Regions from separate parts of the Homo sapiens genome. Here region 2 is linked to region 1. A link means that fine-mapping ties the variant in region 1 to the expression of a gene that starts in the linked region. Tissue or cell type: gastroesophageal junction. Region 1 holds a variant in brackets; the other region holds the start of a gene. All regions are shown on one strand. Distances are from middle to middle.

Region 1 (2,755 bases):
AAACACGGCCGCCTTTGCCAGGCAGGGCCTCTCTCTGAACAAACTGGATTCTGGAACCAGCAGCCATCTGAGGCCACAGAGGACACTTTGCTGCTGTTTTGCCCAAAGGGCAGCTGATTCTCCTGTGGAGTGCTTTGCAGAATCCGTAGCAGCTTCCTGGAAAGTCAGCCCTAGTCACTGTTCGTGGGCTGGTACCTGTGGCCCTGTGGGTCCTGGGATAGCTTAGATGCTAAGAGGCTGTTTGAGGTCATGGAGTCTTTCGCCCCTTTTGTGATGTGTTGATGCATATTTCCACCCCACAGGAGGTGAGACACTAATGTTGCACCTCCCCACCCCCATCCCCAGCAGTGGGGTTCCTGGACAGACTTGTCACATCAGAGAGCAGCCCGTCAGCCACTGCAGCCTTTTGTCCTCATTTCTTACTTTCTTAGCCTCGTCATTATCAACCAGGTATATTATTTGGAGGGAGGAGACACCCCGCTACCTGGACTGACACCCCAAATTGGGGCCTTGGTTCTGTGATCTTCCAGCATCAATAGGCACCCCAAATTTACCTCTGTCGACTGGATGCCTTGGCAAACTCAGGTGCCTGTAGGTCTGGGTGGGTCATATAAGTGAATTAAGCCATTGAGTTGTCAGCAGGGAGTGGTGTGGAGTGCAGCTCATAGGCCCCATCAAAAGGGATCAGCCACTCCTCACCAGGCTGATTCCTGTTATATAGGACTGCAGCTAGCTGGATAGAAGTCCTTGACCTTTTCAAGACGTGGCAGAAATGCACATCTTCATATAAAATCTGATGTTTAAGTTGGTTGGAAACTCCTTTGTTTGCTTAAAACATCTGTGGGCCACATGGGGTCCACTGTACCTTAAAAGCCTTCCAGGGCAAAAGGGGACTTTGGTGCATAAGTCTGTTTAACATGTGAAGCAGTGCAGAGTGAGGGCAGCAGGGGATCCCACTTGACCCCAGGGGATCGCGATGACAAGGTGCTAACCAGGACAGCTCCAACACCAGGCCTCAGGGCAGCGCGGCCTCTGCGGTTCTGACTGAGGTCTTCATAAGAGTGTGGGCTCCATGAGAAAGGGTCCATTGGAGTAATCGTCGGGCTAGAGATGTCTGCTCAGTGCCCAAGCACCGCCGGCACACCTGCCGTCTTTCTCCGTGTGGGAGACGTGCTCCTAATGAGGGCCTCTGTGCCCAGCCAAATGTCCTGGTCTTTGGAGAGGTTTCCTGCACCTCTCACACCTTCTCTGTGGCAGCTTCTTTTGCTTCTTGTCCTCTGTGTAGCCAGCGGCTGCACTCGGTTGCCTGTAGAAAGAACGCAGATTAGGGAGGCTTTGGTTTTTGTTTTCGGGGTTTGTTTTGCTTTTAGCAGCTCAGCAAGAAAAGTGGGTCTTTGGAGGGCAGTTGTGTCAGTTCAGGGAAATTGGTCACAGGTTATTAGGGTTGAAAAAGAAGTCTGGTATTGTCACCTGTTAAATTCAAAAAGCAAATTCCATTCATGGGTAAAATTCACCTGAAGGAGTTCCCTGCAGACGGGCTGTCGGAGGATCTTTGATTCTGCTTTTCTTGGCGTTGCCACTCCCCTGTCACTCACTGCCCCTTGCCCTACTAAACCCAAGTGG[C/G]TTTCTTTCTGCGTCTACCCCTCTGGTTTTTAACTAAGGGCAATTTTGCCTTACTCCCCAGTTCCAGGCACAGCTGGGAGTGAATGCAGACATTTTTGATTGTCCCAACCATGGGGGACAGTGCCACGAGAATCTAGTGGGTAGAGGCAAGGGATGTACTGAGCATCCTACACCTCACAGGATGGCCTCCTCCCTGCACAGCAGAGTTATCTGACCTGAACGTCATTAGTGTGAAGGTTGAGAAGCCCAGACCTGGCCTGAGAAGCTGGCTCGTTGGGTCTTATAAAACCAGCTACAAAGCACTGGGACTCCACAGTCAAGAAAAAGAGAGAGGGAGGAGAAACCAACATGTATTTAGCACCCGCCAGGGTCCAGGTATTAGGCCAGGAGCTTTTCATTTCTTTGAGACAGAGTCTCACTCTGTCACCAAGGCTGGAGTGCAGTGGTGTGATTTCAGCTCACTGCAACCTCTGCCTCCTGGGCTCAAGCGACTTTTGTGCTTCAGCCTCCCAAGTAGCTGGGATTACAGGCATGTGCCACCATGCCCAGCTAATTTTTGTATTTTTAGTAGAGATGAGGTTTCGTGTTGGCCAGGCTGGTCTCGAACTCCTGGCCTCAAGTGATTCACCCATCTCGGCCTCCCAAAGTGCTGGGATTACATGAGCCACTGCGCCTGGCCAGCTTTTCATTTATTAACACATCCTTTCTTTGAGGTTAGTGTTACTGTCCCTTTTTTCCAGATGAGGAAACTGAGTCTCACAGAGTGAAGTGGCCAAGCCATAGTCTCACAGCTGGGACGTGGCAGCATGGGGAGTGTGAGCTGGGTATGCACGATTGGCAAGCCTCTACCCTTTGTCACTGTCAGTCACACCAACATGAAGCACTTACAGAGCAGTCTTGAATATCTTCAGGGCTGGGGCTTTCCAGGTCCTGCATTGTAACTGTGGGTCCTCTGTGCCCCTTGTAAACAAAGCCAGGCTTGGTCACGCTCGTCTTCCACCACTGTGTGTCTCCTCTGGAGGTCCTCAGAGTATAGAGGCCGCAGCCACTGTGTAAGCCTTGCCGCCACTTTGGCCTCTCAGTGCTTAGATCGGCCATGGGAGCCCTATTGGTGCTGTCCAAGGTCCTACCC
Region 2 (2,500 bases), 560 kb before region 1:
CGCCTCCCGGGTTCACGCCATTCTCCTGCCTCAGCCTCCCAAGTAGCTGGGACTACAGGCGCCCGCCACTACGCCCGGCTAATTTTTTGTATTTTTAGTAGAGACGGGGTTTCACCGTTTTAGCCGGGATGGTCTCGATCTCCTGACCTCGTGATCCGCCCGCCTCGGCCTCCCAAAGTGCTGGGATTACAGGCGTGAGCCACCGCGCCCGGCCAATCCATCACCTTTTCTATCTCCACTGCCACCACTGTAGACAGGCACCATGTCTTGCCTGGACAACTGCAATAACTCCTTAACCACCTGCTCTTTCTCCACCCTGCCCCCATTATAATTCATTCTCATCCCAGGAAGAGCCATTTTTGTTGTTGTTGTTGTTGAGAGGGAGTCTCACTCTGTCACCCAGGCTGGAGTGCAGTGGTGGGATCTCGGCTCACTGAAACCTCTGCCTCCCGGGTTCAAGCAATTCTCCTGTTTCAGCCTCCCCAGTAGCTGGGACTACAGGCGCACGCCACCATGCCTGGCTAATTTTTGTATTTTTAGTAGAGATGGGGTTTCACTATGTTGGCCAGGCTGGAATCGAACTTCTGACCTCAGGTGATTCACCCACCTTGGCCTCCCAATCATGCCTTGGGATTACAGGCATGAGTCACCGCGTCCGGCCTAGGAGCCATATCTTAAAACCTAATTCAGATCGTATCACTCCTCTGCTTGAGTCCTTTTTTTCTTTGGTAGAGAACGGCGTCTCGCTACGTTGCCCAGGCTGCTCTTGAACTGCTGGCCTCAAGCGATCCGCCTGCCTCCGCCCTCCCAAGTGCTGGGACCTTCCTAGAATTAGGCAGAAAAGCCCAAACTCCTTCCTCTGGCCTGCAAGGCCCTCCCTCCACCTCCTCAATCTCCTTTTCTCACTCACCCTCTCGAACTCCTGACCTCAGGTGATCCGCTCGCCTCGGCCTCCCAAAGTGTTGGGATTACAGGCGTGAGCCACCGCACCAGGCCTATTTTCTCACTCATCCCCTCGCTCCTGTCAACCCCTCCAGGCAGGGGCCTTGCAATTGCCCCTCCTTATGGAACACTTTCCCTGGGGATCTTCCCGGACTGGGTTCCTCTCATCATCCAGGTCTGGGCTCAGAAGTCGCCTCCTTAGAGAGGCCCTCCGGGATTGCCCATCCGCCTGTGCCCACGCTTTGTCCCGTTCCTCTATTTTTATTTCCTTTCCCGCTCGCATCCCTCTCTGGGACGAAGTCGCCCCATCACTCGTGGGAACCTCAGGAAGGCAGGGGAGGCGTCTTGGGCACTTGGGGACAGCGACGCCTCCTCGCGGGGTCTCGGGTTTACCCTGAGTCTCCAGCCCGCGTAGCCTCAGCACCGCTCTCCACACCGGGTCCGGCGACTTGGATCTGCGCCGCGGTTTACGTTCCGGGTCGGCGGGCGGGGCCTCGTCGGCGGCCAGGCTCTACTTCCGGGGCGGGGCGGCCGGGGCGGGGCTCCTGTCTCCCGGCCTGTCTGGAGCTCGGCAGCCGCAGAAGCGGCAGCGGCGGCGGCGCGGCGCAGGCACCGGCCCGGGGAGAGGCACCATGAGCGGTGAGTGGCGGCCCCGCCGCTGTCACCTGCCCCGGCCGCCCCGGCTCCCGCCGCTCCAGCTGCACACTCCGGCCCCTGCGTCCTCGCGCCCCGCTCCCTCGCAGACCCCCTCCCAGTCGCTCCCTTTTCCAGACCCCTGGCCCCCAGGACTCCCGGCTCGTGGCCCCTGCTCACCTGCGGGTCTCTGATCTCCCGTGGCGGGGCACTCCTGGTCTCCTGACTCCTGTCCATCCATAAAAACCAGCTCCTAAACCCCTGTCCCCAGTTGTTCCAGTCCTGCGATCCCCTTGCCTAGTGTCCAGACCCCCAGTTCTGAGACCTCCCAGGTCTCAGTCTCTCCTAACTCCTAGACCCGCTGCGTCCCAGCTCCAGTTCCAGGTCCCCCATCCCCAGTCATCCCCGCTACCCAGGCCCCTGGTCTCCAGTCCCTGCAGTTTCCACACAGGCATAGTCTTTCTGGACAGTTAGTTTGCTGACCCCAGTACCCCCGTGTCCCAGGAGCTTCTGGTCCCCAGAGGAGCTCAATTCTGCAACCCGTTTGTCTTCCCCATCCCTCTCATCCCTCCCACCCCTGTTCCCAGTGCTTTGCTCTTCCCATCACCAGTTCTTCCCAGTTACCCACTCGGCTTCCCTCTCCGGTCCTGGCTTTTACATTTCGATGATCCTTGCATATTCCATCCTTGTCCATGTCTTATCCTGGCTCATCATTATCATTTAAGATCTCTCTTGCCTTGTCCTGCAGCCCTTCCCTTCTTGTCCCGTGCCCAGCCCATCTGGGGACCGTCACTTCGTCCTTCTTCTTCCCAGTCCAAACTTCTTCCTCTCACCATCGAGGGGGTGGTGTTGATGGGGATGCTGGAAGTGAGAGGGAGGTGGGTGTGGGCAGCTCGTCCTCAATGTTTTCTGAAGTTTAGTCCCT

What was found. PIP is the estimated chance that this variant, and not a neighbour inherited with it, causes the effect.
Region 2: it holds the start of SNX29, and the variant in region 1 is fine-mapped to the expression of SNX29 in gastroesophageal junction (GTEx, PIP 0.92).

Annotation. Positions count from the first base shown.
Region 1 is chr16:12,533,130-12,535,884 of GRCh38, forward strand. The region is part of intron 20 of SNX29 (sorting nexin 29); the gene reads left to right. It also overlaps a transcript of SNX29-AS3 not described here. Among named protein-coding and RNA genes, the nearest start is that of SNX29-AS3, 77 kb to the right of the region's middle. The variant C/G (reference allele first, on the strand shown) is at 1,624.
Region 2 is chr16:11,975,233-11,977,732 of GRCh38, forward strand. It overlaps SNX29 (sorting nexin 29), which reads left to right and starts at 1,502. Exons shown (of 21, transcript NM_032167.5): 1 at 1,502-1,581. The coding sequence starts at 1,575. It also overlaps a transcript of NPIPB2 not described here. RefSeq lists an enhancer at 166-817 and a silencer at 1,312-1,771.